Regions from separate parts of the Homo sapiens genome. Here regions 1, 2, 3, 4 and 6 are each reported to be linked to region 5. The links are microRNA targets in miRTarBase. Many come from high-throughput screens and were not tested one by one. Region 5 holds a microRNA gene; each other region holds the end of a gene's coding sequence.
The links. Region 5 holds the annotated microRNA hsa-miR-4728-5p (UGGGAGGGGAGAGGCAGCAAGCA, at 1,975-1,997, opposite strand). A microRNA usually pairs through its seed, bases 2 to 8, with sites in the 3' UTR of a target mRNA and lowers its output. Matches are read on the target gene's strand: a 7mer-m8 pairs with bases 2 to 8, a 7mer-A1 pairs with bases 2 to 7 and ends in A, and an 8mer does both.

Region 1: the mRNA of CCL22 is a reported target of hsa-miR-4728-5p. Seed matches in the 3' UTR shown: 7mer-m8 at 853-859, 7mer-m8 at 1,413-1,419, 7mer-A1 at 1,794-1,800, 7mer-A1 at 1,983-1,989, 7mer-A1 at 2,757-2,763 and 7mer-m8 at 3,092-3,098.
Region 2: the mRNA of CAPN7 is a reported target of hsa-miR-4728-5p. The part of its 3' UTR that is shown has no 7-base or 8-base seed match.
Region 3: the mRNA of OSBPL2 is a reported target of hsa-miR-4728-5p. Seed matches in the 3' UTR shown: 7mer-A1 at 1,473-1,479 and 7mer-A1 at 1,607-1,613.
Region 4: the mRNA of MICB is a reported target of hsa-miR-4728-5p. Seed matches in the 3' UTR shown: 7mer-A1 at 3,825-3,831.
Region 6: miRTarBase lists FAM83B as a target of hsa-miR-4728-5p. Seed matches in the 3' UTR shown: 7mer-A1 at 1,683-1,689 and 7mer-A1 at 1,848-1,854.

The regions. Positions count from the first base shown.
Region 1 is chr16:57,362,940-57,367,939 of GRCh38, forward strand. CCL22 (C-C motif chemokine ligand 22) reads left to right here. Exons shown (of 3, transcript NM_002990.5): 3 at 565-3,250. The coding sequence ends at 649. Among named protein-coding and RNA genes, the nearest start is that of CCL22, 6.7 kb to the left of the region's middle.
Region 2 is chr3:15,250,302-15,255,682 of GRCh38, reverse strand. CAPN7 (calpain 7) reads right to left here. Exons shown (of 21, transcript NM_014296.3): 20 at 4,660-4,752; 21 at 2,767-4,567. The coding sequence ends at 4,423. It overlaps SH3BP5 (SH3 domain binding protein 5), which reads left to right. Exons shown (of 9, transcript NM_004844.5): 9 at 1-1,330. SH3BP5-AS1 (SH3BP5 antisense RNA 1) reads right to left here and starts at 1,499. Exons shown (of 3, transcript NR_046084.1): 1 at 1-1,499.
Region 3 is chr20:62,293,600-62,298,933 of GRCh38, forward strand. It overlaps OSBPL2 (oxysterol binding protein like 2), which reads left to right. Exons shown (of 14, transcript NM_144498.4): 14 at 186-2,584. The coding sequence ends at 288. Among named protein-coding and RNA genes, the nearest start is that of ADRM1, 6.7 kb to the right of the region's middle.
Region 4 is chr6:31,509,213-31,514,463 of GRCh38, reverse strand. MICB (MHC class I polypeptide-related sequence B) reads right to left here. Exons shown (of 6, transcript NM_005931.5): 6 at 3,340-4,682. The coding sequence ends at 4,555. Among named protein-coding and RNA genes, the nearest start is that of MICB, 14 kb to the right of the region's middle.
Region 5 is chr17:39,723,097-39,728,492 of GRCh38, reverse strand. It overlaps MIR4728 (microRNA 4728), which reads right to left and starts at 1,998; the gene lies at 1,932-1,998. It overlaps ERBB2 (erb-b2 receptor tyrosine kinase 2), which reads right to left. Exons shown (of 27, transcript NM_004448.4): 17 at 5,036-5,174; 18 at 4,833-4,955; 19 at 4,483-4,581; 20 at 3,582-3,767; 21 at 3,289-3,444; 22 at 3,091-3,166; 23 at 2,640-2,786; 24 at 1,834-1,931; 25 at 1,490-1,678; 26 at 946-1,198; 27 at 1-804. The coding sequence ends at 449. RefSeq lists an enhancer at 1,218-2,190.
Region 6 is chr6:54,941,308-54,946,703 of GRCh38, forward strand. FAM83B (family with sequence similarity 83 member B) reads left to right here. Exons shown (of 5, transcript NM_001010872.3): 5 at 1-3,792. The coding sequence ends at 700. Among named protein-coding and RNA genes, the nearest start is that of FAM83B, 97 kb to the left of the region's middle.

The sequences.
Region 1 (5,000 bases), not on the chromosome of region 5:
ACTCAAGGCTGGGATTCAAGAGCTGAGGGTCCTGGAAGTCCTTGCTGCCTCTTCCTCTTTTTTTTTTTCTTGACACGGGGTCTCATTCTGTTGCCTAGGCTGGAGTACAGTGGAGCAGAGATCTGGGCTCACTGCAGCCTTGACCTCCTGAGTCCAAGCAATCCTCCCACCTCAGCCTCCCAAGTAGCTGAGATCACAGGCAGATGTCACCATGCCTGGCTGACTTGTACGTTTTTGTAGAGACAGGGTTTTGCCATGTTGCCCAGGATGGCCTTAAACCCCTAGGCTCAAACAATCCTCCTGCCTCGGCCTCCCAAAGTGCTGGGATTACAGGCGTGAACTCCTGGCCTCCTCTTCCTCCTGAGAAATATTCTTTTCACACCACAGGTGGCTTGTAAATTTTGAACCACTCTATTTAGCAGATAATGTCATATGTAGTAGGTGACTCATAAATGCTGAGCCCTGCATAAAGTAGGTGGCTCATAAATGCTAAGCTCCCGAGGGTGTGGCATCCTTGCTGCGTGCTAATGTTGCTGCATTGTCTCTGGGGTCTCCTTCTTCCAGGTTGCTAACCTTCAGGGATAAGGAGATCTGTGCCGATCCCAGAGTGCCCTGGGTGAAGATGATTCTCAATAAGCTGAGCCAATGAAGAGCCTACTCTGATGACCGTGGCCTTGGCTCCTCCAGGAAGGCTCAGGAGCCCTACCTCCCTGCCATTATAGCTGCTCCCCGCCAGAAGCCTGTGCCAACTCTCTGCATTCCCTGATCTCCATCCCTGTGGCTGTCACCCTTGGTCACCTCCGTGCTGTCACTGCCATCTCCCCCCTGACCCCTCTAACCCATCCTCTGCCTCCCTCCCTGCAGTCAGAGGGTCCTGTTCCCATCAGCGATTCCCCTGCTTAAACCCTTCCATGACTCCCCACTGCCCTAAGCTGAGGTCAGTCTCCCAAGCCTGGCATGTGGCCCTCTGGATCTGGGTTCCATCTCTGTCTCCAGCCTGCCCACTTCCCTTCATGAATGTTGGGTTCTAGCTCCCTGTTCTCCAAACCCATACTACACATCCCACTTCTGGGTCTTTGCCTGGGATGTTGCTGACACCCAGAAAGTCCCACCACCTGCACATGTGTAGCCCCACCAGCCCTCCAAGGCATTGCTCGCCCAAGCAGCTGGTAATTCCATTTCATGTATTAGATGTCCCCTGGCCCTCTGTCCCCTCTTAATAACCCTAGTCACAGTCTCCGCAGATTCTTGGGATTTGGGGGTTTTCTCCCCCACCTCTCCACTAGTTGGACCAAGGTTTCTAGCTAAGTTACTCTAGTCTCCAAGCCTCTAGCATAGAGCACTGCAGACAGGCCCTGGCTCAGAATCAGAGCCCAGAAAGTGGCTGCAGACAAAATCAATAAAACTAATGTCCCTCCCCTCTCCCTGCCAAAAGGCAGTTACATATCAATACAGAGACTCAAGGTCACTAGAAATGGGCCAGCTGGGTCAATGTGAAGCCCCAAATTTGCCCAGATTCACCTTTCTTCCCCCACTCCCTTTTTTTTTTTTTTTTTGAGATGGAGTTTCGCTCTTGTCACCCACGCTGGAGTGCAATGGTGTGGTCTTGGCTTATTGAAGCCTCTGCCTCCTGGGTTCAAGTGATTCTCTTGCCTCAGCCTCCTGAGTAGCTGGGATTACAGGTTCCTGCTACCACGCCCAGCTAATTTTTGTATTTTTAGTAGAGACGAGGCTTCACCATGTTGGCCAGGCTGGTCTCGAACTCCTGTCCTCAGGTAATCCGCCCACCTCAGCCTCCCAAAGTGCTGGGATTACAGGCGTGAGCCACAGTGCCTGGCCTCTTCCCTCTCCCCACCCCCCCCCCAACTTTTTTTTTTTTTTATGGCAGGGTCTCACTCTGTCGCCCAGGCTGGAGTGCAGTGGCGTGATCTCGGCTCACTACAACCTCGACCTCCTGGGTTCAAGCGATTCTCCCACCCCAGCCTCCCAAGTAGCTGGGATTACAGGTGTGTGCCACTACGGCTGGCTAATTTTTGTATTTTTAGTAGAGACAGGTTTCACCATATTGGCCAGGCTGGTCTTGAACTCCTGACCTCAAGTGATCCACCTTCCTTGTGCTCCCAAAGTGCTGAGATTACAGGCGTGAGCTATCACACCCAGCCTCCCCCTTTTTTTCCTAATAGGAGACTCCTGTACCTTTCTTCGTTTTACCTATGTGTCGTGTCTGCTTACATTTCCTTCTCCCCTCAGGCTTTTTTTGGGTGGTCCTCCAACCTCCAATACCCAGGCCTGGCCTCTTCAGAGTACCCCCCATTCCACTTTCCCTGCCTCCTTCCTTAAATAGCTGACAATCAAATTCATGCTATGGTGTGAAAGACTACCTTTGACTTGGTATTATAAGCTGGAGTTATATATGTATTTGAAAACAGAGTAAATACTTAAGAGGCCAAATAGATGAATGGAAGAATTTTAGGAACTGTGAGAGGGGGACAAGGTGGAGCTTTCCTGGCCCTGGGAGGAAGCTGGCTGTGGTAGCGTAGCGCTCTCTCTCTCTGTCTGTGGCAGGAGGCAAAGAGTAGGGTGTAATTGAGTGAAGGAATCCTGGGTAGAGACCATTCTCAGGTGGTTGGGCCAGGCTAAAGACTGGGATTTGGGTCTATCTATGCCTTTCTGGCTGATTTTTGTAGAGACGGGGTTTTGCCATGTTACCCAGGCTGGTCTCAAACTCCTGGGCTCAAGCGATCCTCCTGGCTCAGCCTCCCAAAGTGCTGGGATTACAGGCGTGAGTCACTGCGCCTGGCTTCCTCTTCCTCTTGAGAAATATTCTTTTCATACAGCAAGTATGGGACAGCAGTGTCCCAGGTAAAGGACATAAATGTTACAAGTGTCTGGTCCTTTCTGAGGGAGGCTGGTGCCGCTCTGCAGGGTATTTGAACCTGTGGAATTGGAGGAGGCCATTTCACTCCCTGAACCCAGCCTGACAAATCACAGTGAGAATGTTCACCTTATAGGCTTGCTGTGGGGCTCAGGTTGAAAGTGTGGGGAGTGACACTGCCTAGGCATCCAGCTCAGTGTCATCCAGGGCCTGTGTCCCTCCCGAACCCAGGGTCAACCTGCCTACCACAGGCACTAGAAGGACGAATCTGCCTACTGCCCATGAACGGGGCCCTCAAGCGTCCTGGGATCTCCTTCTCCCTCCTGTCCTGTCCTTGCCCCTCAGGACTGCTGGAAAATAAATCCTTTAAAATAGTGTCTGCTTTGGTTTCCTGGCATTTGCTGTCCCTGTGAGATGGGGCAGGGGGCACCATGATCCCCTCTATCCCACTGGGGAAGCCTTCCCATTGAAATAGGTGGTGACTTGCCCAAGGTCACCCTGTGAGTGGTGGGAGTCAGGGCTGGACACAAGGGCCTGGGAGGTGGCTGCACAGGTGCTGATGGAGAAGCCCAGACATTTGTCCCAGAGTTCCCAGCCCACCTTGGGACCAGCTGTCAGGAGGATTTGATGAAACCATTAAAGCAGTCCCCACATCTCGAGCTTTCAGCAGCATAATCACTCAGCCACTCAGCCTTCACCTTCCCCCTGCACGGGCAGACACTGGAGAAAGGGAGGGAGTATTAGTCAGGAAAGGCTACCTCCTGCAACAAACACCTCCAAATCTCAGTGGCTCAACTCAGCAGAAGCTATTTCTTCTCACACGAAGTCTAATCAAGCATTCTCAGTCTTAGGCAACCTTCCATGTGGTCATTTCAGGGACCGAGACCCCTTCCTTCTGGTACAGCCAGCGTGGTCACAGGCAGAGGAAATGCTAAGCACACGTGGGCAATCCTCCTTACTGGCCAGAAAAGATAAGCTGGGAGAGCTGGGTGGGACTGGGTCCCAGGGGCCCTGGAGGTGGCGGCAGGGGAGGCCCCCTGGTCATGCCCATCCCTTCTCCCATCCTGGTCCTGCAGGAGTGCCCCGATCTCCCCATCCTCCTCTCCAGAGCTGTTTCTGTGCTACTTCCAGGGCTGGGGAGTCCCTCATATCCCTCAAGAACAGCACAGGCTCCCTGCTCTCTGGGGCACAGGGTCCTGGCCACCTGAGGGCTTGTGGAAGGTGGGGACAAGGACACCCCCATTCTCACCACCCCCACCCCACCCCAGAGGAAATTTTTGCCGTCCAGTGCTACCCATTTTTTTTTCTCATCATTACTCTAGTTATCCCTCAGTCCAAGACCTTCCCAGCTCTCTCTGGCCTGTGAACAGCATCCTCATTCTTCACTCCCGCTTCACAATTCTCTGCAGTTGGGCCTAGCCGCAGCCTCCATTGGAGCCAATGGCATCCAGCCATTCCTCACCCCTGAATACGTACTGTGCCTTCCACCTTGGTGAGGCTTTCACCTCTGCCTGGAATGGTCTGTCAAAATCCTGCCTAGGTGCATGTGGCAGGGTGCCAGCCCAGCATGCCACAGCTGACTTGCAAATCACAAGGGGACTAATTCTTCTATAATAAAGATGTCTAGCAATCACCCATCGATCCATCAATCCCATCCATCCAAGGAAAATTGGAGCAACTGGTCCATGTGAAGTGTACAGTATTACTCATAATAGATTCTTGCCAAGAGTATGTAGCCTGGGTCTAATCAAGCCTTTAGATCTAACTTTCGGTTTACAGGAAATAAATAGGATAGAGGAACAAATTAGATGACATCACAAGGAAATAACTAAATAACTAAATTAAGAATGAGAACACCGTATAAGACAATGGACTTGACTTTGCTCTTTTTTTTTTTTTTGAGGCAGAGTCTCACTCTGCCGCCCAGGCTGGATTGCAGTGGCGCGATCTCAGCTCACTGCAACCTCCACCTCCAGGGTTCAAGCAATTCCCTAGCCTCAGCCTCCCAAGTAGCTGGGATTATAGGTGCATGCCACCATGCCCACCTAATTTTTGTATTTTTAGTAGCGACGGGGTTTCACCATGTTGGCCAGGCTGGTCTCAAACTCCTGACCTCAAGTAATCT
Region 2 (5,381 bases), not on the chromosome of region 5:
ATCCCACGATATCTAAATGAAAAAGAAAGAAAACCCACACACAAAGCAAAAACTCAAGTATTAAGAGCACATATTTTTGACCCAGTGGAGGCTTAAAAAAAAAAAAATCCAAGAACACAATTCATTTTCACCACCTCTGGTGTTCAGAGGGGGCTTTTAAAAAAGCGTGTATGCTGGGATACCCATTAAAACCATTTTCTAGAAGGCTACCATGAGCTGCACTTTTTGGGGTGGGAAAGGTGAATGCCAGTGGGGATGCGGGGGGATGAGGGTAGGAGGGACTTATAGAAGGGGATTTGTGGCTGTGGGGGAGAAGGTTCTACAGCATAAGCCTTATCCTGCCAGCCAAGGGGATTTATTCTAAGAGAAGTGCATGTGAAGAATGGTTGCCACTGTTATTAGATTGACAAGATGTTAATTTCTCTGTAGGTTGTAACTTTAAAAATAAATGAAATTATTTAAGGGTTATGCTGCACTAGTATTCCTTAGAGGAAACAGTTCTTTAAAGTTAGGAAAGGGAGTAGGCAGGCATGTGTTGGCAAAGGCTGTTAATAGTAGTTAAGTGTTAAGACTGCTTTTCTTTAACGTTTTCATGGTAATGCATATTTAGAGCACTGTATTTTTGTCTTGTTAAGAAAATTTAGCATTTCTAAAAGAAAAAAGCAACCCTCTTTCAAACTGTTAATTCTGTCACAGCCTGTATATTTTAGTCATTTGTAAATCTCTTCATACAATAGTGACTTCTTTTTTGACTGATACAGTATCTTAATTACAAGGTTATTTTGTACTTGTCTTAATACACTAAGTGTAATAAAAACGGCTTGAGAAAAGTTTCTCCTTTCTGTGACTTCAAATAAGAACTCCCAGTATTGCCTAAATCTTCTAGGCAACCCTTTTTCCATAAGGAAGAGCATGGAGTGCTGTGGTCACCAGTAATCATTTTCAATTAATTAAGGTCATGAACAGTAATAATTTAAGCCTTGTTTACCAAGGTTTGAATTCTACTTTTGCTGTTGCTAAAGCTGTGGGCAATGAGGAGACACAGTGGCAGATAAAGACGAGGTGGTGACGCTGGAGGAGTGGGCCTCGGCTGCACACTGCAGTCTCGAAGCTTAAGTGTTGCTGTCAGTCAGTTCTCATCCCCAGAGAATTATTTAATTAATTAACTGGGGGGGGTACACTGGGGCATTAGACTTTTAAAAGCTCCCCGAGGGAATTCAAATGTGCATTCAGAGTTGAGAATCAGATGGATTCTTTCTTTTGTGGAAATGTTTTATAATATTGGACTCTTAATCCGCATTTCATTATTAAAGCATGCTGTGGAGAAAAAGTTCTTGGTTGGCCAATCATGAGGTTTAAGTTTCAGAAATAACCCTTTGCAGTATCAAACAAGTGTTTTACCTAGTAGTTAATAAATATTTCATCTAGGAAAGTTCATAGAAGTCCCTTGTGCTATTTAAGAACATTAAACAGCCGGCTGGGCCCAAGGGCTCATGCCTGTAATCCCAGCACTTTGGGAGGCCAAGGCTGGTGGATCACTTGAGCCCAGGAGTTCGAGACCAGCCTGGGCAACATAGTGAAACCCAGTCTTTACCAAAAATACAAAAATTGGCCAGTCTTGTAATTTGGGTCTCAAGCAAGAACACTTAACAGCATACCTGAATTTGACTAGTGACCTTCAGGGTTCATTCAGTTCTCATAAAATCTCCTTACACCCTTTTACCTGTAGTAAAGACACTGAGACTTGCTTGACTTACCATTAGCAAAAACTTCCCTGCAATTGAGGCAATTCTTTTTCCTCCTAGAAGAAACACCATCTGGAAAATAGCCCAAGCTAGGATAAAGTTTTTACAGCAGAGTCAAGTTATACAGTCTAATAACTAGAAATTTCTAGGTACTTCTCGCAGAGAATGAAAGTGGGAAGGAGTTTTCTAACACTGGGGCTTTCTTTCCCTTGTCTTTACAAAAGACAAAGCCTAGGCAGTCAGTCAGTAGCACTAGAGTATTCCTTATGGGCATTAAGAATTTCTCTTGTTTCCTGCCTCAATCCCCCTTTCCCATCAGCCTACCACTTGCTTGTCTCCTACACCAGAAAAGGATGCAGACCACCTTTTGACCAGGGCTCCCTTCTCACACTATCACCTAGTCAAATTTCTAGTTTTACGTAGTCTGCCCCTACTGCTGTCACTGTGGCCTCTTTATCTCCACCACATCTGACATTTAATTATACTCTTCTGGGAATTCTGTTCACTGGGCTTCTTAATCCTCCCCCAACCCTCGTTTTCTTGTATCTCCTGTTAGTCTATGTATTTTTTTCTAAATTAGAAATACTTTCTAAAAAACTTCCCCCAAATCAGTTCTTAACCATCTTTAGTTCACGTGACTCTTGACTTTTTGGGTGATCTCACTTACTATACCACGTTGATTCCAGATCTGGATTTTCTGGGCAATTTAATGTGTCAAAACTTACCTTTCACTGAAGCTATGAGCATCTGTCCATGTGCTGAATTAGAAACTTGAGTCATCCTCTCTAACAATTCAACTGGTCTGTCTGTTATTTAGAACCTCCAAAAGGCCTGGATTGTTTTTCCTCCCTCTACAATGGGTCTAGATCTTGTCCCTCCCTCGACTAGACGGCCGTGACTGTGGGTGCCATTAGACACACACAGCAGCTCAATCAGGGCTCAGGGAAGAAGGCTTGTGAACCCTGGGCAAAATCTTTTAATCTCTTAGGCTTATTTCCTCAATTGTAAGAAGTACAAATAATAGTATCTATACTTTATTCAGCTATTGGGAAGATTAAAAAGAAAAATATACACATTGGGTACATAGTAAACACTCAATGGTCAGTAACCTGTCTTTTGAAGCTTTACCTTCAAGGTCCAAGTTAAAGTATCAATTCTTCAAATACAATTTTTTATATTGGTCCAGCCAAAATTAATCTTTCCCTTATTCATACACTGGTGGCATGTTTTTAGAGCTCTATTATAGAAATCAGTGCCTTTAAGTTGTTCATATATAGGTCTCTTCTAATAAATTTGATGGCAGGGATTAGGTTTTTAGTTTGCATCCTGTACAAGATCTTTACCACAACAGGTTCAAATCATGTGTTCATAATATAGTTCTTATGTTCTGGATTTTTTCTTTTTAAAAAGTAACAGAAAACTTGTTAAATTTGTCCACCTAAAATTAATAGGCTAAAACTGAAAGCATGAAGTATTTACCAAAGTGAAATCTCATTAGTGTAATAATCTACCACTACTCTGTTAAAGAACAGATTTTTGTTGAAGTATATATTTTCATGCAAATAATCTGTTCTCATTTACATGAAACACGACAGATGAAATCTTTCAATAAATCTAACTTAAACTATGCAATATCCGTAAGTATAAACATTTTATTTCAATTTAAGGTAGTAGCAATACAAAATAAGTTTTGATAATTATAAAGTAGAGACAATGAAAAATCCCACCCTATTTTTAGAATTTTAAAATATTGAGCATCATTCTGTCCTGATGGGTTTTTATGTAAAGTGGGAATTTACATGACACCAGTATCTTGGCAATTCACTTTTTTTGAATGCTACATATCCCAATCACCATATATTAAATTCTCTATTTTCTTCAAAGTGCTATTGCCACAAGAGACTGAACGATACAGCAATTTAAAAAAAGACCACACAAACTAAATTGTAATGTCTTCAATATCTCAATTACTGTTTTTTAAAAATAAAAACTGCAGTAGTGAATTTCTTTAAGTTCTTGCTACATGATTGAATGGGAGATAACCTCAACAATTTTCATTCTTAGGCATGAGCATCTTCATGCTAAGGTAGTCTATACTTAAAAGCTTTATTCTTTCATAACACCTGGGCAACAAATATTTTAAAATCATAAATAATGCAAAATTAAAATCAGTTATGGTGGCACAATTCATTTGGTAACTAGTTGCCCAAGATGTATAGTAGAATCAAGCAGGTTTAACTTCCACATGCTCTGCAAAAAAGGGAAACAATGGAAATATTTCGGTATATTAATCTAGCCCACTATTCCACTCAAGGAATCTATATCCTTTCTTTTTCTCATCTGGTCTCAGTTCCTTTATCCTCTTAGCAAAGGCATCTCACAGTGATGACTGAGTCTAATTTTAATCATATGCACTTTTTATACAAAATGGCCCCTAAAATGCAAGCCAACTCTATATACACAAAACCATGTAAACGGTACCTCTAGGTGATTTAGGTAATTCTGACTATATACAGTTCTTACCAAACACCCTGACAAGCACCAGATTCCACTGTAACACGTTTTTAGAGATTTAATTCCATTCTGATTGTTCTGCTTACTGTCCTGAAGATTTGCGTCCTTATTTGAAGAACTGATGTTTGGTAAGTATAAAAGCCAGTAACTTGAGATTTCTCCATCACTGAAGTTGTGTGATCTTGATGGGGATAATACTATTAAAGTCCAAGAAAAAAGGTCCTTCTTGTTTAGGCAAAAAGGTACTAGGAATGATATTGAAGATCCCAGAAGGTATATTTTCTAATTCCAGGTAGCAAAACCCACACCTATATTTAGAGAAAATGAGAATAAGGTTTATAGAAGATGATGCCACAAAAAGTAAAGTATAAAATAGATACAATAAAAATGCCAACATTACCTATAGTCACCACTAGATTTCCTCAGAAAGCCATGGGGACCAGGATCTCCTAGAGTAGAAACTGTTACAACCTCAAATCCAACGCTATATTGCCTAGCATTTAAAATGAACAGAATTACTGTATTAATATATATTCTCAAACGTGATTTAAAATAACTTTATCTGAAGTGCAGATGTCATACTAAGTTTATGTTTCTGAAGTTTCAGTAGAAACATACACACTCTATTTTTGATCATAACACACCATTTATATTTTTCAGTTGAAGCCTTAAAGATTAACACCAGATTAAACTTACTTTAAGAGAGACTGTATTTTTACCATGGGCTCCCCGGGAAATATTTTATTTTTTTTGAGACAGAGTCTCACTCTGCTGCCCAGGTTAGAGTGCAGAGGCACGATCTTGGCTCACTGCAACCTCCGCCTCCTGGGTTCAAGTGATTATCCTGCCTCAGCCTTCTGAATAGTTGGGACTACAGGGGTATGCCACTGTGCCTGGCTAAATTTTTTTGTATTTTTAGTAGTGACGGGGTTTCATCATGTTGGAGAGGCTGGTCTCGAACTCTTGACCTCAGGTGATCTGCCAGCCTCGGCCTTCCAAAGTGCTGGGATTACAGGTGTGAGCCACTGCGCCCGACCTCTTTTTTATTTTTGAGACAGGGTCTCACTGTCACCCAGGCTGGAGTACAGTGGAGCAATCATGGCTCACTGCAGCCTTGCCCTC
Region 3 (5,334 bases), not on the chromosome of region 5:
TTCCAGCATTCACATGACCACGTGATCAATAATTCTCCGTTGAAGTTGTTACGCTGGGCTGCATTTTAAAACCCACGTTACCGTGATGGTGCTGAGTTGGGGGAACACACTCCTGCACCCAGAACAGGGCTGCGTTTTCCTTTTGGGCTGAGCATCTTCTGACCCCCCTCCCTTGTATCCGGCAGGTGGTTCTACCCAGGCAATAACCCCTACACTGGGACCCCCGACTGGTTGTATGCAGGGGATTACTTTGAGCGGAATTTCTCCGACTGCCCAGATATCTACTGAGGGCCTGGAGGGGCCTGGGGCCCGGGACCGGAGGCTGACGAGGCTGGACTTCCTCGAGTGGCCACTGTGAGCCTCGTCACAGCAGAAACCAACTTTTCTAACGACTGAGTTCGCGGAGATAGCATCATCCCTGATCAAGGATGTAATTCTAATTAACTGTTGATTGCCAAACATTTCACTCTGCTGTGCCGTCTCTTCATAAAGCTTCACTTGGGATCATCGTCTTCATTAAGGTTTCAACAGGGAAATTCTTCACGGCGCCCTTTTATGTGGCAGAAATCAGCTGGGGCTTGTTTAGCTTCCAGCACACTCTCAGTCATAGCATGTGTAGCTAAAGGAAGTAATGGGAAGGGGTTCATGTTCTCTTTATAATGCAGTGGCAAAAGGTTCTGAAAGCCTTTTAAACTCGAACCAGTGGGGGAAAGATGGATCTTGAAGCTAATCCTGCAGAGAGTTTTATAGAGGCCAGGGATTGCCTTCTAAATTATGATAAAACAGAAGTGAAGAGTTTCAGAGCATCAGATTGAGTGAAAAGTTGTCAGATTCTGTATTTTTTAACAATCTTCAATAATGTAAAGATTACTTTTAAAATATTTAAGTTAAAACTACTTGAATAGTATTTTGCTGAAGAGCAAGATATGCATTAATCACCGGTTTTATACTGTCCAAAATGAAGCATCCCCGTGACAAACCAGAGTGGGCAGAAGCATCGAGAGCGTGACAGGAAATCCCAAGACTGCTTCCGCCTCAGAGGCGTCCCGGCTGCGATTCGCTGCCCTGTTGTCAGTGAGGCCTGGCTGTCACCGCACACCGCGTCCGTGTCTCCAGGGGGTTCCTTTCTTCTCACACGTCGCGTGTACCCATAGCACTCTTGTGTTTCTGTTTTTCCCAGTATGCATGTTTAAAATAGAAGTGACAAGAATCACATCCGGTTGTGTCCTGTGGGAGGGTCAGAGGCAGAATCTACTTACAGTGGTGTAATTAAAGTTATTTAACCAAAAATAGGTATGTGTCCATCTCAGCATTCACCTTTATCAAGTGACTGATTTTTTTTTCTTTTCTTTCCTTTTTTTTTTTTTTTTGAGACGGAGTTTCACTCTTGTTGCCCAGGCTGGAGTGCAATGGCATGATCTCGGCTCACCGCAACCTCCGCCTCCCGGGTTCAAGCGATTCTCCTGCCTCAGCCTCCCAAGTAGCTGGGATTACAGGCACGCGCCACCACACCTGGCTGATTTTGTATTTTTAGTAGACACGGGTTTTCACCATGTTGGTCAGGCTGGTCTCAAACTCCCGACCTCAAGTAGTCTGCCTGCCTCAACCTCCCAAAGTGCTGGGATTACAGGCGTGAGCCACTGCGCCTGGCCGTGACTGATTTTTTTTCATGTAGAATTGTCAACACGAGAGATCACAGTGGAGCACTTTGAAAGACCGTCGGTTGTGTGCACGCACGCACACACTCATGCACACGCTGACACGCGGTTGCATGGAGTCCAGGTTACTCAGGCCGGCACTTCTGAGTGACAGGTGCCACCTGCGTGTGTCTTGGCGTCCACATCACACCTGTGACGGAAGCACTTCTGGAAGTGAACACTCGTTTTGAAAGCTTGATTTTGTAGCTTTGGAAGCTGGAAGCGATGGTGTTTGGTGCCGAGTCCTGTGTCATCCTCGGGGCCTATGAGCTCCGTACCAGCCACTCAAAAGTGTCTGAACAGAACCGCTCCGTGACTGGTAGCTGGGTCTGAGGATTCAGGATTGTGGCGTTATTCAAAGAGGAGACTTTGAAATTCCCCGATGGCTGGAATGTGGAGCCCAGGTGCCTCTGGTGGAGGGTCATCTGCTTTTCCAGACTGTGGTTGTGAACCGGCTCCTTCTCCAAGAAAGGTTGCAAGCTGAGAACATCCAGAGGTGAGACTCAGACACATTGAAAGTGACTGCATTTAGGGAGGTTTAACGAGTTCTTACTGATCATTCCACTTGTTACTGGTTAAGATAATTTGCCCACGGGTTTGTTTCCAAGTCCTCTTCTAGGACCAGGCTCCTGGTATTTCAGGGGCTGGTTGGCTGCACAGACAGCCCCTCTTCTGCTGTCCTTGAGGACAGACACCAAACCAGAGGTGGAGGAAGAACGGTAGGAAGGCTGATGGCAAAAGCGGCTGTGTGTCGAGGTTATTTTAACTTTTTACTACTTTTTGTTACTGTTTCTGCAAATGCTAACACATAAACCATGACCTAACTTTTGTCACCTTGGATATCTATTGAATGTTAAACATCTCTAATAAAGATGGCCACCACTTAATGTGTGGAAAGTGATGGCCTTCTCGTGGGCCACGCGTTTGGGTGTGAGTATGGCCTTGACCAAGGGTCTTGGTGCTTTATTCACTTTTAGAGATAGGGTCAGTTGCCCAGGCTCGAGTGCAGTGGTGCAGTCATAGCTCACTGCAGCCTCGACATCCTGGGCTCAAGCAGTCCTCCAGCCTCAGCCTCCCAAGTAGCTAGGACCATAGGCACATGCCACCAAACCCAGCTATTTTTTTAAAACAATTTTGTAGAGACAGGATCTCACTGTGTTGCCCAAGCTGGTCTTGAACTCCTGGGCTCAAGCAATCCTCCTGCCTCAGCCTCCCAAAGTGCTGGGATTACAGGTGTGAGCCACTGTGCCAGGCCCTTGGTTCTTTTAAAAAATTAATCCTGTCATGTAGGATGTCCTTACAGAATGAAAAACCTAGCAAGCTTATTCCCCAACAGAACCTAATACCTTGGTTGGATTCTATTGCTAATTGAAATGAGAATTCGGTTCTATGGTCATTGGTTCAGGGTGTATGTATTGTGAGCTGCTGGAGACAGAACGGTGAACAGGCATGCCTCCCGGAGAGCCATATGCAAAGCACGGAGAGCCACATGCAAAGCACGTGTTGGCAACATAGCACATGCTGCTGCTCACCAGGCTCACCTGGGATGACGGTGTGGATCTGAGTCGCTGGCCACGTGGCGACGTCTGCCCTGCCCTAGTGTCCAAGGACGGTGAAGGGTCGGGTGTCACCAACACCTGCAGCCTTCTCACCGGGCGAGGCTTGGGTTGTGGGAAGTGGGGGACAGCTGGCCCTGGTCCCCAGCCCTGATGGACATCCGGCATTTTGCTGGTGCAGGCTGTCCTGAAGCCAGACCCTCCCGAGACTGCTGTCTGGGAGGAGAGCGAGCCAGCGGCCCAGATGCCTTGGTCGTGGGGAGGTGCCTGTGTGTACCGTGAGTTTCCCAGCCTCCGGCGGCAAGTGGGAAAGCCGGTACAGGAAGAGTGGTGCCTGCAGGTGCTCCCGGTCACCACCACCCCTTCCAGACGCCATCCCCAGAGCTCACATCTGTGCTGGCTGGAGGGTCAGGGCTCCACTCTGCCCGACAAGCAGTCTGGTGCAGGGGACGCAAATGTCAGACCCAGCAGGGCCCGGCACTTGGAGAAGTGCCACATGCCACCCTGGTGGCCTCCGGGCACCCCACTGTCCACGTGTCTGAGCATGGAGCTGTCCATCTGGGGCATTGGCCTTGAACACCAAGGACCTGCCCCGGTTTGCCAGGCACATCTGAACACAAGGTCAGGAGGTTAGAACAGGACAAGAGAAACGCCTGGAGGCCTCCTCACAAGGCATCCTGCTCTTTGGGGAAAATTTCTCCCCAGCAGAAATGGGGATTTACAAGTTTTACAGGTCCTTGTCATTTCCGTGAAGGAAAACAAAGCAAAGACAGTTACGAGTTCTGGTGAGCTTCCCACTGAGCTGGGCGACAGAGTTCAGGTCTCCAAGTGCCGGGCCCTGCTGGGTGTGACATTTGCGTCCCCTGCACCAGACTGCTTGTCGGGCAGAGTGGAGCCCTGACCCTCCAGCCAGCACAGATGTGGACGAGGGGCGCAGCTGGACCCCAGAGGAGAGTTCGATCCATCTGCAGGAAGTCCTGATGGTCCCAGTTTTCTTTGATGGCCACATCTGGACTTGCCTGTGTGTAAAGTGGACACAAAAGACGGGGCCCCTGCCGTGGCCGAGAACGTGGCGGTGGCTCCTGCTGCTTGCCAGGCAGCACGGGAGCTGGGTCTCCCTCGGACCCCTCAAAAGATGGTTCCTCACCGTCTTCTACAGGCTGATGTAAAATTTCTGTGAGGCGAAAGCCACATTTGCCAGCTCTGGGTACGAAGTTCACTTCACAGTCGGTCCTTCGCTTGGTGAGCTTTGGGAGCCAGGCTGCCGTGGCCAGATGTTTAGGAGCACGACGGTGGCTCTGCAGAGGGCGATGGTGTGCAGCCGGGCTTTCCTGTCGCCCACACCTTGCAGGCCCTCACCCCTCCCCGTGCCTTCACCCAGCTCCTCCTCCAGTGCCATTCATCCCAGCAGGCAGCAAGGACATGGCAGCTGAGAAAAGATGCCAGCAGAACGCACTTATTTTATAATATTTAACAACTGTCAGTGCCAAACTGCATTAACACAGTCATCCTCAGATTTTTCAGAGGGCTGTGTACACATCTGTGAAAATAAATGTTAACCTCTAAGATTTGAATGAAGATTCTCTGAAGATGGGCAGCAGGTGACCTTTGTTTTACACTGAGCAATTTTTCACCATCTCAGCCGCTCTGGCCATTTTGAAAAGGGCTACAAATCTGCTAAGGATGAGTCCTCATGCCTGGTTATCAGAAGTTTGGACCGCGTGTTCCTGAGGATTGGCCAAGCAAATGGCTCATTTCCAAAAACTGCCCTGTGGAGAGGGGGCTGGGGGACACTCGTGACACCTGTCGGGCGGCACATGTGATGGGTGGAGCACCCAGGTTCTCCAAGCAGCAGGAGGCTCTGATGGACCCCCCTCCCCTGGCGGGGGGACGCTACTGCTAGAAGCAGCGAAGGGCCCGGTGCCCCAGGTTTCAGCTGCCTGCCTTCTGCCGTAAGTTGCCCCAGCACCTTCGTGCTTTTCAGGAGCGTAAGCTGAGCAGACTCAGTCGTCCCAGTGGTCAGTGTGGCTGGGGCAGAGGGACACACGGTCCACAAGACGTCCATGCTCTCGGAATGCTCC
Region 4 (5,251 bases), not on the chromosome of region 5:
CATCTATTTTACATCTAATTACTAATAGTGATTTTCCTATCTTGTTTCTTTATTATTTGTTCCCTAACTGGCTTTAGAATTAACACTATTCATAGCTGATAAAGTGAGTTGCCTAGCTTTCTGTATTTTGCTCCATTCTCTTGAATATTTTAAATAAGTCCAATAACCTTCTTTGAAGGTTTAGTAGGACTTCCCTGTGAAACAATCTGTATATAGTTGGGCAGAGATAGAATTTTTACAACTGTTTTAACTTCTTACTTGCAGTAAGTCTTTTCCATCGACATTTTTTTTTTATAATTTCAAGATTGTTTACATCTCTACTATAGCTGCAGTGGCATATTTATCTGTCATAACACTGTCTTGCTCTTAATTAACATTGTCTGTTTTTTTTCTCTGTTCAAAGAAACAGCTGCTTTTGGCAGGCTGGGTCCTCAGCAGTGGCAGCTGCCAGGTCAGCCTTGGTGAGTGGTGACTCAATTGCTCTGTCCATGCAGTGTCCATCCCAGCCACCACGGCCACTTTGTGCAGGGACTCATGAGCAAGCCTTGTGCGGCTGAGTGGCATCATCCATCAAGCCATCTCGCTCACCTGGTTACAGGGAGCCCCAGCCCCTTGGAGACCCTCTGGCAGGCATCCATATGCAACCTCTATCTTCACATGCTCTTCCCATGGAAAGTGGTCAGTGCACACTTCTCTCTTCCATCCGCCAATTTTCCAACTTTATTTTCCCCAAGTTCCAGACTGGCCAGGCAACCCATGAGTCACTGCCCTTGATTCATTCATTCATGCACTACTGGGGCATAATTTCTACCCTCTACCTCCTGTGGTCTTGTTTGGGTTTTGATTCCTAGTTCCTGGCTCGACAGCCCTTTCCAAAGCTGTTCTGGTGTCAGCTCCCAAGCCTACTGCTCTTGTAGATTCTCCTTTTTATATCTGAGTCATGGGCATTTATTTCCTGGAATTAAAAAAAAATTCACTGGTATTTTCAATGCAGCATTTCTAAGGACTTGGAGTAGGAGAAATTCTATATTAGCTTAGAGAGAATTGTTTCAAAACACCAGAAATGTAAACTTGAATGAAGGACAACATGCATGGAGAAAGGTGGACAAATCACAGGTGGGCAGTGGATTTTGCCCAAGTAAAAACTCGGATAAACAACACCTTCATCAAGCAACATCATTTTCACCCTCCAAGAAACACCGTTGAGTCATAAACCAGCCTCCCCCACCCTAGAGTAGCCACTGTCTTGATTTTTAACACTGTAGATGAGTTCTGTTGGTTCTGATTGAATGAAATTAGAAGTTGTTTTCATGTAGTTGGGCTCATCATCTTTGCTGGGCTCATCATCTTGCTGTGTGTGGTCATAGCCGATTCTCTCCCATGGCCGTCAAGTGCTCCACTTTATTTATTTATTTATTTTGAGACGGAGTTTCACTCTTGATGCCCAGGCTGGAGTGCAATGGCGCCATCTCGGCTCACTGCAACCTCCGCCTTCCCGGTTCAAGCAATTCTCCTACTTCCGCCTCCCGAGTAGCTGGGATTACAGGCATGCGCCACCACTCCCGGCTAGTTCTGTGTTTTTAGTAGAGACACAGTTTCTTCATGTTGGTCAGGATGGTCTTGAACTCCCGACCTCAGGTGATCCACCAGCCTCGGCCTCCCCAAGTGCTGGGATTACAGGCGTAAGTCACCGCATCCAGCCAAGGGTAAATCTCTTATTTTAGAAATTATTCAGCTAGTGAATGGGGAAGGAATGAGAGACTGAGACTATAATTCTTTTGCAACCCATAACGAATTAACAGATTTAGCCATTGAAAAGCAATGGCAATTAAAAGTAGAGTAGAAGTAAATAACCAGTACTAAGTTCTTCCTCCTGATGGAAGAATACAATGGAGTGCCATAAATGAAGTATTCAAGAAGAAAATCAAGTCAGTCTATAAGCAAATCTCTGTAGCCAACTACCAATTTGTAGAAAGTACAGATAAAACAGGTCCATATTAAACTATGCCTTGGGGTGGAGCCAGCAAAATGCAAACTATGGAAAACTCAGCCAGACAATAAAATTTCAAGGAGGAGCATAGAGAAAAAAAGAGAACAGGCCAGGTGCGGTGGCTCACGCCTGTAATCCCAGCACTTTGGGAGGCCGAGGCAGGCAGATCATGAGGTCAGGAGATTGAGACCATCCTGGCTAACATGGTGAAACCCTGTCTCTACTAAAAATACAAAAAAATTAGCCGGGCGTGGTGGCAGACGCCTGTAGTCCCAGCTACTCGGGAGGCTGAGGCAGGAGAATCGCATGAACCCGTGAGGCGGAGCTTGCAGTGAGCCGAGATCATGCCACTGCACTCCAGCCTGGGTGACAGAGTGAGACTCCGTCTTAAAAAAAAAAAGAAAAAAGAGAACAAAAATTATACATCCCAAGGTAAAACTAAACTACAATTTCAGAGGATGAAAATATAAAATAGAACAAAGAAGCAATCATCATAAAGGTCAGGCTGTGATTTTATGTGGGGAAGGGAAGCCTTTATCACTGAGCTGGGGCAAATGATGGTTTCTGGGCTGGCTGACAAACTTCTATATCTCTGGTGGTTAAAGAGTGTTTATCTTTTATTATTATTATTTATTATTATTATTAAAGGGCAACATTTTCAGACAGTTTTTCTTTTTGGGTACCTGTTTTATTTTATGGCAAAAAGCTAATGAAGAATAAAATAATTTATAGGTCATGATTACTGTTTTGCAGAAAGCCTACTCTCCACACCCCTCTCCAGACACTGAGCTCCCAAAACAAGTGGCAGCACCAGGACCCCCTGGCAGGGCCACCTCACTTCTGGGTGTGTTCATGTCACTGGAGGCAATGTCCCAGGTCTATTCCTTGATGCCTGGAAGAACCTGATAGGAGACAGTTGAGGGGAAGCCTTCTCTGTCACCTGCAGGTTCTTGGCTGTCACTGTAGAGGGAGCGGGTCCTCACTTCTCCCACAGGCCGGATCACAGCCAGAACCTCCTCCCTGCATGGGGAGTGAGGCTTGATCCTTTCCCTGAATACAGTGACAGAGATCTCTGTGTCATCACATGAAGGCTCCAACTCTTCAGGGCAGATGTTCCCTCACAGGGTCAGCCCCTGAATATTGGCGCCAGATGTCCCACCTCCATCCCTTCCCAGTCCTTTCTGTTCTGCTGTGAATCTGTCAGTCATTGGGAACTAGCAGGGAAAGGGAACAAGGAGGGGAGATTGCTTTGATGCTGGGTCAAGGCATTGAGACAGACCTCTCCTTCTCCCTGAACCTCACACTTTATCCGCTCCCAGACGCATGAAATAAAACACAGACCAGAAATGTCTATTTAAAGAGTAAACATTTACGGTATAAATTATGCACACATAATAGTAGACACAGAGTAATGCATAACGGTGTGACGGGGCGAGGGGACCTCAAGGTGACAAGAAAGCTGGTCCTGGGCTGGTCAGGAGGAGTCATCACCAAGATACTCACTCATAAAGTTCACCCATGATAATCTAATTACTGCACATGTAATATATTAAAATATATTAAAACATAAGAAAATAGGACAGGCATGGTGGCTAATATAATAAAATATATTACAATATAATAAAATAGGCCAGGCACGGTGGCTCATTCTTGTAATCCCAGCACTTTGGGATGCCAAGGCAGGCAGATCACCTGAGGTCAGGAGTTTGAAACTGGGCTGGTCAACTTGGCGAAACCCCGTCTCTACAAAAAATACAAAAATTAGCTGGGTGTGGTGGTGCCTGTCTGTAATCCCAGCTATTCGGGAGTCTGAGGTACGAGAAGTGCTTGAACCTGGGAGGCAGAGGTTGCAGTGAGCTGAGATCACACCAGTGAACTGCAGCCTGGGTGACAGAGTGAGACTCTGTCTCAAAAACAAAAACAAAAACAAAAACAAAAACAACAGAAATAATGATACCAATTAATATGGCACTGTTAAGGGCCCCACAACCCTGTATTGGACTGAACAAAGGGCGAACGTGGGAATAAAGAGAAAGACAAAAGAGTATATTTGGAACAAGGGGTCAGGGGGCTTCTTGCTTCTCGTGAACAAGGGCTCTGATCTTCCACAGCCCTTCGTATTTATTGGTATAGGAGATAGCAAGAAGAGGGGTGGAAGAAGGAGTCAGCTGCTGGGTCCAGAGTAGGCTTGTAAGACTGCATTCCTCAAACAATAGGCTCTAGATGACCCAGTAGATAACTCCAATGAGCACCATGGAGTGAATGCCCTCAGCAAACCTTCTGTTGGCAGGAGCAGTCGTGAGTTTGCCCACATCCTGCATTCATGATAAACAATTTGCTGTTTGATCATATAGCCTCCAATGGAATGTTGAGTTGGTCATGATCCCTTTGCTGGCTCTCTACGTGGCAGAGCAGCAAACACCTCATACCTACTAACACTTTGCAGCATCCAACAACAATAAATAAGTGATGTTATTTTCTCTGTTTCATAGGTCAGGAAACAGAGGGAAAGTGCTGGTGAGATCCAGGCAGGGAGTTGAATCCTGGCCGCCTGGCTGTAGAGTCTAGGTGCCCTCAGTGGAACCAGTGGACCCAGTAGCTGACATCAGAGGCTGAAATCCCAGCTGTGCTGCATCCCTGTGGTCTCCTGTCCCAACTGGGTGTTGATCCAGGACCTGCAGGCTCACAAGCTCTGGAGAAGAGGGAAACGGGTAAATGCTCCACTGGGTGCAGTGTTGTGTTTATTCCCTAAGGACTTTTCTCTCTTCAGTTGCCCCAAAATCAGATTCGCCCTTTCTCTGAGAGAAGATGAGGCCCCCACTTTTTTCTTCCTCCCTCCTTGCTTTTCCCAGCCCCTGTCAGTTCTCTCCCATCACTCCATCAACATCAGCCCCTGTCCTGTGCCCACCACTCACCGTGCAGGGAGTGAAAGGGCCCCAAGACAAAAGGACAAGACCCAAGAGGGAACCCAGTGCCCTCCTCTCAGGCCTGACCAGTCCTGTTACAGTGAGAGGCCTCCCCAAAGAGAGGCCCTGACCCTTGCTCTCAGTCCCCAGGCCCTTCTCTCCTGCAGAGGCACCTGCACACCAGGGCAGGCCCTGCCCACTGTGGGCCCTGCCCTCTATCTGCAGCTCAGCACTCCTCCCCTCCCAGCCCTGAGCAGGCAGCTCCTAACTGGGGACCCCATCAGGAAGCCTGGGGGGCCCAGCAGGCCCAGCATGGAAAGACGTGGCTGCCACAGGATCTGCACCTGACCTGACC
Region 5 (5,396 bases):
TGGATACTGACACCATTGCTGTTCCTTCCTCATGGGGGGCAGTACTAGGTTTCAGGGACAGTCTCTGAATGGGTCGCTTTTGTTCTTAGACACTCCCTTAGGGCCGCTTCCCCTCTCAGGCCAGCTTCCCTAAGGCTTTCAGTACCCAGGATCTGGAAGGAAAGGGCCAAGCTGGGCTGTGGCATCCACTGGACCCTAGAGTCTCATTGGGCAGGGCCTCAGAATCCACAAAGACTCCCCAGTGCTGTTCCTCTTCCAACGAGGCTGGACCCCTTCCAGCCATCTGGGAACTCAAGCAGGAAGGAAGGTTCCTTAGGACAGGTTCCTGGCATGGCAGGTTCCCCTGGAAGTGGTCGGAGGGCCCTCCCACCTCTTGATGCCAGCAGAAGTCAGGCCTTCCCTGCTCCCTGAGGACACATCAGGGCTTCTGCGGACTTGGCCTTCTGGTTCACACTGGCACGTCCAGACCCAGGTACTCTGGGTTCTCTGCCGTAGGTGTCCCTTTGAAGGTGCTGGGTGGAGCCCCCCGCTCTGGTGGGTCCTGGTCCCAGTAATAGAGGTTGTCGAAGGCTGGGCTGAAGGCAGGAGGAGGGTGGGGCTGAGGGGCAGCTCCTCCCTGGGGTGTCAAGTACTCGGGGTTCTCCACGGCACCCCCAAAGGCAAAAACGTCTTTGACGACCCCATTCTTCCCTGGGGAGAGAGTCTTGGGCCTTTCCAGAGTGGCACCAGCAGGTCGGGCAGCAGGCAGAGGGCCCTCTCGGGGCGAAGGGGGCTGGGGCCGAACATCTGGCTGGTTCACATATTCTGAAAGGTCAAGAGAAGGTGACCCATTAGGGGAAGGAACCCCGGTGTCTCTGCCACTCCCTCTGCCCCCACAGTGGACCCTGGGCTGAAGGTCCCACCTCCCCTGCCCATCAGTCTCTCTGCTTAGACTGGACTCCATACCAGGCTGGGGGCTGCAGGTCAGGGGGGCAACGTAGCCATCAGTCTCAGAGGGCAGGGGTACTGTGGGGTCCTCACTGTACCGCTGTAGAGGGCTGGGGTCATGTGTGGGGAGGCTTTGCAGCCCCTTGGCTGCCCCCATTCCCAGGTCACCATCAAATACATCGGAGCCAGCCCCTTCGGAGGGTGCCAGTGGAGACCTGGGGGCCTCCTCTTCAGAGGGCTCCAGCCCTAGTGTCAGGTCCCCACCGCCACTCTGGGGACAAGAAAGAAAGTCATGATGGGGGTCACTCACGGATCTGGGATGGGGACTCCATGGAAGGTGACAGGGTCACAGGAGAAAAACAGAGGTCACCTTTGGGGTATGACACAGTCACCGTGGAGAGAATGGGGTCACAGGGGTTGGAAGGCAGTAAGAATTTTTTGTAGGGATAATGGGGTTTCCTTGAGAGGTGACAGTTGAGGGAACATCAGAGAAAGGGACCCTAGTCCACCGGGGTTGGGGGAGGTAAGCAGACAGCCACACAGTGTGACCGAGGGCACTGACCCTGGTAGATGAGCTGCGGTGCCTGTGGTGGACCATGCCCCCAGCGCCCGGGGCAGGGTCTGGACAGAAGAAGCCCTGCTGGGGTACCAGATACTCCTCAGCATCCACCAGGTCCCCCATGTCATCGTCCTCCAGCAGTGAGCGGTAGAAGGTGCTGTCCAAGGGACTGGCTGGGCCCAAGTCCTCATTCTGTGGAGGAAGGAGAGGCAGGATGGTGGCCCCTCCCCAGCCCAGCATGCAGCCTTCCGTGAGGGGCCTGGCATACTGGACTCATCTCTCCTTCCCACCCTCTGCAGGAGGGTGCTCTTAGCCACAGGCAGGGATGGGGCACAGAGGCCCAGTACCTGGATGACCACAAAGCGCTGGGGGTCCCTGGCCATGCGGGAGAATTCAGACACCAACTCCCGGAATCTTGGCCGACATTCAGAGTCAATCATCCAACCTGGGGCAGGAGGGAGGTCAGCATGCTAGTCCCAGGCCCTGTGTGCTTGCTGCCTCTCCCCTCCCACTCCCCCTCCAGTCTGGTCTAGACAGTCCCAAGGGACAGCCCAAAGCCCTCAGGTGGTAGAGAAGTAGCACCAGACTCTGGGGTCTTCAGCCAGAACCTTTGGCATCTCTTCTAGTTTCCCTTTTAATTTTTTTTTTCTTTTTGTTTGCTTTTTTATTTTTTTGAGATGAGGTTTCGCTCTGTCACCCAGGCTGGATTTCAGTGGTGCAATCATAGCTTACTGCAACCTTAAACTAGGCTCAAGTGATCTTCCTGCCTCAGCCTCTCCTGAGTAGCTGGGACTACTGGCACACACCACCACACCCAGATAATTTTTTTATTTTTTGTAGAGATAGGATCTCACTATGTTGCCCAGGCTGGTCTTGAACTCCTGGCTTCAAGGGATCCTCCCACCTCAGCCTCCAAAAGTACTGGGATTACAGGCATGAGCCACTGTGCCCAGCTTAATTTTGTACAAGAGTGTTCCTCAAGAGTGGCTTTGGACTTTGACTGTAAAAGGGATACAAGAAGGTTTTGAGGCTCCTAACATACTAGGGCTCCTGGGTCTACATACATCCTGGTCCCCTTTCATGCCCCTTGTGGGCTCCTCCACCCAGGACCTCCCACCCTCCTCCAGGCAGCCAGCACAGCTCAGCCACGCACATTTGACCATGATCATGTAGACATCAATGGTGCAGATGGGGGGCTGGGGCAGCCGCTCCCCCTTTTCCAGCAGGTCAGGGATCTCCCGGGCTGGGATCCCATCGTAAGGTTTGGCCCCAAAAGTCATCAGCTCCCACACAGTCACACCTAAGGCAGAGACAGGGTCAGGAGTGGGAGGGCCAGAGGGAGCTTTAGTGTACTGAGCCAGAGGTTCTGCTCAGGAGTCTAGCATCATGGCAGGTAGCAGGGGGAGATGTGATGCCAGGAGACAGACCCTACCCGGTCTTTCCCTAATCCTGGGAAGTGCACAGACCCTGCAAGGTGGGGCACAGGCAGCCCCTTCCCTCCCTTCACATGCTGAGGTGGCCCCGTAATTCTCCCCATCCCAGCTCTCATCCTCCCTCCAGCCATGGCTCCTCACCCACCCCTCCCAACACCCCCCATCACACACCATAACTCCACACATCACTCTGGTGGGTGAACCGCCGGCGGAGAATGGACTCCAGCGCCATCCACTTGATGGGCACCTGGGAGGGCAGAAGAGGAAGTCCTCCAACTGTGTGTTGTGGGGAGGTGGCCACTCAGAGTTCTCCCATGGGCTAGACACCACTCCACCCAGCCTCCTCTGCTCCTTGGTCCTTCACCTAACCTTGCCCCCATCTGCATGGTACTCTGTCTCGTCAATGTCCAGCAGCCGAGCCAGCCCGAAGTCTGTAATTTTGACATGGTTGGGACTCTTGACCAGCACGTTCCGAGCGGCCAAGTCCCTGTGTACGAGCCGCACATCCTCCAGGTAGCTCATCCCCTGGAATGGGAAGCACCCATGTAGACCTTCTGGGAGGGCCTGGGCCTGGCCACATGCCCAGCAAGAGTCCCCATCCTAGCCCCTTGTGGACATAGGGGTTTGCTCCGGAGAGACCTGCAAAGAGCCCAGGTGCATACCTTGGCAATCTGCATACACCAGTTCAGCAGGTCCTGGGAGCCCAGGCGTCCGCGGTTTTCCCGGACATGGTCTAAGAGGCAGCCATAGGGCATAAGCTGTGTCACCAGCTGCACCGTGGATGTCAGGCAGATGCCCAGAAGGCGGGAGACATATGGGGAGCCCACACCAGCCATCACGTATGCTTCCTGGGGACAAGGGTACGCTGAGAGGGTATGGGAGACCACACACCCCCAAACACCACACAGCCTCCCAACCATCACAAACCACAGCCATGGCCCACAGCCTGTGAAGGCTCAAAGTACCAGCCTGGACAACATGGTGAAACCCTGTCTCTACTAAAAATACAAAGATTAGGCCGGGCACGGTGGCTCACACCTGTAATCCCAGCACTTTGGGAGGCCGAGGCGGGCGGATCATGAGGTCAGGAGTTTGACACCAACCTGGCCAACATGGTGAAATCCCATCTCTACTAAAAATACAAAAATTAGCCGGGCGTGGTGGCTCGCGCCTGTAATCCCAGCTACTCAGGAGACTGAGGGAGAAGAATCGCTTTAACCTGGGAGGCTGAGCTGAGACCGCACCATTTCACTCTAGCCTGGGTGACAGAGCGAGACTCTGTCTCAAAAAAAAAAAAAAAATTAGCGGGCGCTTGTAATCCCAGCTACTCAGGAGCCTGAGGCATGAAAATCGCTTGAGTCCAGGAGGTGGAGGTTGCAGTGAGCCGAGATAACGCCACTGCACTCCAGCCTGGGTGACAGAGCAAGACTCCGTCTCCAAAAAAATAGTCTAGGTTTGCGGGAGTCATATCTCCCCAAACCCCAATGAAGAGAGACCAGAGCCCAGACCTGCAGCCATGGGGTCCTTCCTGTCCTCCTAGCAGGAGAGGGTGGAGGGGCTTACGTCTAAGATTTCTTTGTTGGCTTTGGGGGATGTGTTTTCCCTCAACACTTTGATGGCCACTGGAATTTTCACATTCTCCCCATCAGGGATCCAGATGCCCTGGGCAGAAAGAGGAGGATATGAGTGAGAAGAGCGTGGGCTGGATCCTACCTGCCTTCCAGGAGATCATTACTTGTCCTCCAAACATCCTTCACCACCCTAGGGCTTGGCCCCGCTCCCTTCTCCGCTGTAACTGCCCTCCCCCAAACACTGCCTCCAGCTCTTGCCCCTCCCATCAGAACTGCCGACCACACCCCTCCAGGCACCGCCCCCATCCTCTGGGGCCGCCCACCCCAGGACCTGGCCCTGACCTTGTAGACTGTGCCAAAAGCGCCAGATCCAAGCACCTTCACCTTCCTCAGCTCCGTCTCTTTCAGGATCCGCATCTGCGCCTGGTTGGGCATCGCTCCGCTAGGTGTCAGCGGCTCCACCAGCTGGGGTGAGGGGGTGGTGGGTCAGTGCCGGGGGCCGGTGCAGACCCCACGCGGGCTGGGAGGACTTCACCCCGCCTCACCTCCGTTTCCTGCAGCAGTCTCCGCATCGTGTACTTCCGGATCTTCTGCTGCCGTCGCTTGATGAGGATCCCAAAGACCACCCCCAAGACCACGACCAGCAGAATGCCAACCACCGCAGAGATGATGGACGTCAGAGGGCTGGGGGCGGAAGCCAGGGTCAGGGATTGAGGGCTAGTTTGGGGTGGGAGGGACAAAGGGGGCCCACGGGGGACATGAAGGTGTTTGGCATTCGGAAAGGGAAGTCGGAAGGGTGACCCACAGGCTTGGACCCTCTCCTACTCTAAAACCTGCCTTGGCTCCCCGCTGCCTCCACAATAAAGTCCAAACTCCTTGTAGGCAATCAGAACCCTCTCCGCATCT
Region 6 (5,396 bases), not on the chromosome of region 5:
TAGCCTTACCCCAGATAAGAAAGAAAATCTATCCAAAAATAAAGCACCTGCCTTTTATAGATTGTGTAGTAGCTCTGACACATTAGTTTCTGAGGGTGAAGAAAATCAAAAACCAAAGAAATCAGACACAAAAGTTGATTCATCTCCTAGAAGAAAGCATTCTTCCTCATCGAATTCTCAAGGCAGCATCCACAAGAGTAAGGAAGATGTAACAGTTAGCCCATCTCAAGAGATAAATGCTCCACCAGATGAAAATAAAAGAACACCTTCTCCAGGTCCAGTTGAAAGCAAGTTCTTGGAAAGGGCAGGAGATGCCTCTGCCCCAAGATTTAACACTGAACAGATCCAATACCGAGATTCAAGGGAGATTAATGCAGTTGTTACCCCTGAAAGAAGACCTACTTCTTCTCCAAGGCCAACGTCCAGTGAGCTTCTACGATCTCATTCAACTGATCGGCGTGTTTACAGTCGTTTTGAGCCGTTTTGTAAGATTGAGAGCTCTATTCAGCCAACAAGCAACATGCCAAATACCAGTATAAATCGCCCAGAAATAAAATCTGCGACTATGGGCAACAGTTATGGCAGGTCTAGTCCATTGCTTAATTACAACACTGGTGTTTATCGCTCATATCAACCCAATGAGAACAAGTTTCGAGGATTTATGCAAAAGTTTGGAAACTTTATACACAAAAATAAATAGCTATTAAAATGCAAAATGAATGAGGCTATCAATATTTGTCCAAAGAAAATTGTGGACAGTCTTTGTAACATGCCAATAGATTTTCCTAAGGACAGAATTATGGGTATGATGTATATGTTCACCAGTGTCCTAGTATAAAGTTATTTTTCTGTGTGATAAAGTTAGGGTCTGCTGTAGATAGAATTTCTCTGTAAACACATTATTTGTAAGTGGTAATGGTAAAAATAATAGATGTATTTAAATCATTTTCTTTAGACTGAAGATTTTAAGTCTCACTTAGAAATTTTTGTGGACGATGTATGGTGTATGGTGTATGGTGTATGGATTTTAACCATTTCCTTTTAAAAAGGTCATACTACCCTCAGTAACCCTTTATAACATGTGTTTATAGTGTTTTCATATCTTCAAAAATATAAGCAAATGGGACAAAGCCCTTTTTTAAGATTAACTTGAAGTTCTACGGGATAACTTGTTATATTTTATTAATATTATTTTTTCTGTGGATCATTGTACAGCTGTTTGGGCAACAGCAGTACCTTTTACATTTTTTATTTTTTATTTTTTTTTCTGCCTGAAGTGTTTGCAAAGTATCAGCCTCATGTAGTATAATGACATTCGTAGGAATTTATTTTCCTCAGCCTTTGAAAACGGTCTGGGATGTGCTTCTTTCTACACTGGACCCAGGGAGCTGTCCCCCTCTTACCCATAGGCTGCTGATTTTTTATAGTCATTCCTTACTTCACATTTAGGACAAACCAGTAGGAATTTAGAAAATCTGAATGATTCCCCCTCCTTTTTCTATTGTATAAAAGCTTTTAGAAATGTAAATTTCTGCCTAAATTTTTGTTAGATTGGCATGACAATGCTAAGGGGTCTTGCTTGCGAAAATTCTTGCTCTTTTTTTTTTTCTTTTGAGATGGAGTCTCGCTCTGTCACCCAGGCTAGAGTGCAGTGGCGCAATCTTGGCTCACTGCAACCTCTGCCTCCCAAGTTCAAACGATTCTCCTGCCTCAGCCTCCTGAGTAGCTGGGATTACAGGTGCGCACCACCACACCCGGCTAATTTTTGTATTTTCAGAAGAGATGGGATTTCACCATGTTGGCCAGTCTAGTCTCAAACTCCTGACCTCGTGATCCTCCCGCCTCGGCCTCCCAGAGTGCTGGGATTACAGGTCTTGCTCTTCTTTAAGTTGTGCCAAATATGATATGACTGCATAGTGTTTTTGTAAGAATACCATTGGGAAAATGAGAAGTTTTACTGGGCTAGTTCTTCCATGATTTGAGGATGATATTCAGATTATAAGATACCCTTTGTCTTTCTTACAGTAATGAAGTATAAGCTCCATATCTGTTCCAGAGACTTTAACTTGACTTTGCTTCATTCACAAAGAACAGAGTTCAAGAAGCAGTGCATCCTGTGAGAAGTGTGAAGTGTTTGTACATCACTTTAAATATATTACTTAATATATTCTAAGTTGCTGTGTGGAGCAGTATACTGTTGTTTTAAAAATGCAAGATTCAGACAAATTTTAATATTGTCTCATTAAAATAATTTAAATAATGGTATAAAATATCTATATCATTAAAATAATTTTCCATAGTGTTTAGAAACCATGAAAAAGAAAACATAGCAGGAGAAAATATGACAGGAAAAGAAAACCTAACAAAGCCCAGAACCCACAGTTAACCAAACTAGACTGACTTTGTTATTACCCATTCTTTGTTAGTATTGGATAGGGAATTAGGATAATGAGCCATTAGGCAGTTCTGAAATGGAAAGCCCTGAAATTTAGTGCAATGTAACTTTAAAACTGAAATTATATAAAGAGTAGAAGTTTAATCATGTTTAATTACAACCAAAAGCCTGTTGCCTTTTTGTACAGAAATCTCCTTAATTTCAGGACATGTAGATAGCTTATAGAAACATCCTTTTAAATAGTTTGTGAGCTCTTCCTCTTCAGTGGAATTGAGGAATACAGAATGCTTTATTTCATCATCCCCTGACAGGTGACTTAGGCTTTGCACAGCAGATTTATTTTTCTCTGCGTTTTTTAAAAATTGTTTTTCTTGTATCTTTTTTCTTCAAAAATATCTATATTTGAGAATATGTACATAACAACTTTCCAAAGTCTCTGTGGCCAAAACCTCTCCAGGGATAAGACTGAGCAAGAATATAATACTTCAAAAAATGTACAGCTACTGTTTAAGTTTTAAACAGACACCATCACAGTTTGTGGATGAAATAGTTTTAAGCCATATACTTTCTGTCTTTTTTTCCCCATATTAATATTGGGGGGCGGATAATATCACTTTGATGTACATTGATATTAAAGTTTGGTAATGCAGCTTTTACTGTCTACATGGTACTGTACATTAGTTTTTAAGCAGAAACACAAGAAAAATGGGTATAATTTCAAAGTAGTTCTTGGCAGATGGCTAGAGAATACTGCAAGTGACCCTGTATCCCGAATACACAGATATCCCTCTATTACAAGTTTGGGATTAGCCATAATTCTGACATGGTGTGTTCAGGTATGGGTATATGTTGTCAGTCTACACTTGTGGAAGCAAATATCTTGTTTAATCAAGATGATGTCTAGTGTCACCTAAATAATGCAAAAAGTTTAATTCTGGATGAATTCAGCTTTACTCAAGATCCACATATTCAAGTATCATTCCACAGATATTCACAGAACACAGAAATATCTGTGTTCTGCCTTATGCCTGTGGCTAAGGGATGCAAAGTAGAATTGCTTTACATTGACTATATATGTGACATGTACGTTGCTGTTTTTTTTAAAATAACTTTATCATGATATTCAGGTAGATCCTGGGTTCTAGAATATTTAAAACAAAAGGATAAAATGATAAACCAAAGAGTCAACTTGTTAACTTTTCTTTTTTAAGAGATGGGTTTTCACTAGTATGCCCAGTCTGGACTCCAAGTCCTGGGCTCAAACGATCCTCCAGCCTCAGGTTCCTGAGTAGCTCAACATTTTATGTATGTACGATATTATAAAGAAATATTCTTCCAAATGAACTTTTGTTTTTAGATCAATAAATGAATAATAAATAATTTTGTACAAACATCAATATATTGTAAGCTATTGTTTTTTTAAATCTTCATACTCTGCATTTCTGCATTCAAGCTCAGTCTTTCACTTAGTTATTCTAATCAGGAATTTAGATGTGTACATATTTTTAAATGTTTTTTCCATGAACTTGGAAATCACATGTAAAACATTGTTTTGATTACCAATTATATTTTATATAGTAATTTATTCATATTTGAAATTCAGTGGCGATTCTCTTCCTTTAAGCAAAATATTATATATACACATTCTCTTTATTTCTATTATACTGTAACATAGTGGTTACTTTAAATAATTTTTTACTTTTTTTTTTTTTTTCAAGATGAAGTCTTGCCCTGTCACCCAGGCTGGAGTGCAGTGACACGATCGCAGCTCACTGCCACCTCAGCCTCCTGGGTTCAAGCGATTCTCCTGCCTCAGCCTCCCAAGTAGCTAGGTTTACAGGCACCTGCCACCTAATTTGTGTATTTTTAGTGGAGATGAGGTTTCACCATGTTGGCCAGGCTGTTCTCAACCTCCTGACCTCAAGTAATCTGCCCCAACTTGAGCTCCCAAAGTGCTGGCATTACAGGCATGAGCCAATGTCCTGGCCTAATTTTTACTTTAAAAGATGGAGAATCTTTAAAAAGGAAAAAAAAATGATGGTTGACTTCTTTATAACTTCATAGCATTTGGTTTGAGTAAAATATTCTATATGTGCATTTGTATTAATGACATTAAGTAACCTACAGTCTGAGAGTTAGTGAATTAAAACTCAGAATTTATTAGAAAAAAATATCCTTTTTATCACAGCTTATGAGGTAGTTGAAATAGTGTGTATTGCAGATTAAAAGTTGTGTCCTTTTAAAGGCAAATGTGCTTTTTAACTAATTAATTATAATGAATGGTAGAACAAATTAATCATAAATGCCAATGTTTAAGAAAATCCTACTTCAGTTAGAATAGTAAGGGAAATGGATAAGACTTCACTTTTGTGGCCATCTGAAAGGAAAGTTATAAATAGGTTCAGTTGGTTTAAGGAGTCAAAGACCATCTTGAGTAATTGGACCTGGGAAAGACGGAAGGGCATTGTAGGGGATATGTGTGTATCCTGTCCAGGGAAACACTTGACATAACGAGAATTACCCGAGCTTCAAGCAGTGAGAAAAGCAAGAGATACACAGAAGAATATTTCTGAGTTAACAAAGGGGTAATAAGTTAAGTTTGGACATTCCTCCTATAATATTAATGTTTCAACAATCTGGCTCATTTATTTAACACTCATACTGGGGACCTACTTTGTTCCAAGTGTGTAGGTTATAGTAGGCTTTTGATGGAAAAAATTAAAATAAAAAAAAAAGGGTTGTCTGGATAATCAGAGGCTGCCAGCAAGTTTTCATACATGTTTTAAGAATACCCCAAACTTACGGCAAAAGTCTATGTTACTTGAGGGCTATTTGTCCTAACTTGTTACTTAAATGTACTCCTAGTGCCTAAAAAGGGTGCACATAAAAGATACCTGATAAATACTTGATGTGGGAATCCAGTCATTTCCTTAGCTGCAGTTTGGAGAAGATAATAGTCCATTAATATCCATACATTAAAATGGGTATTTTATAACTACCT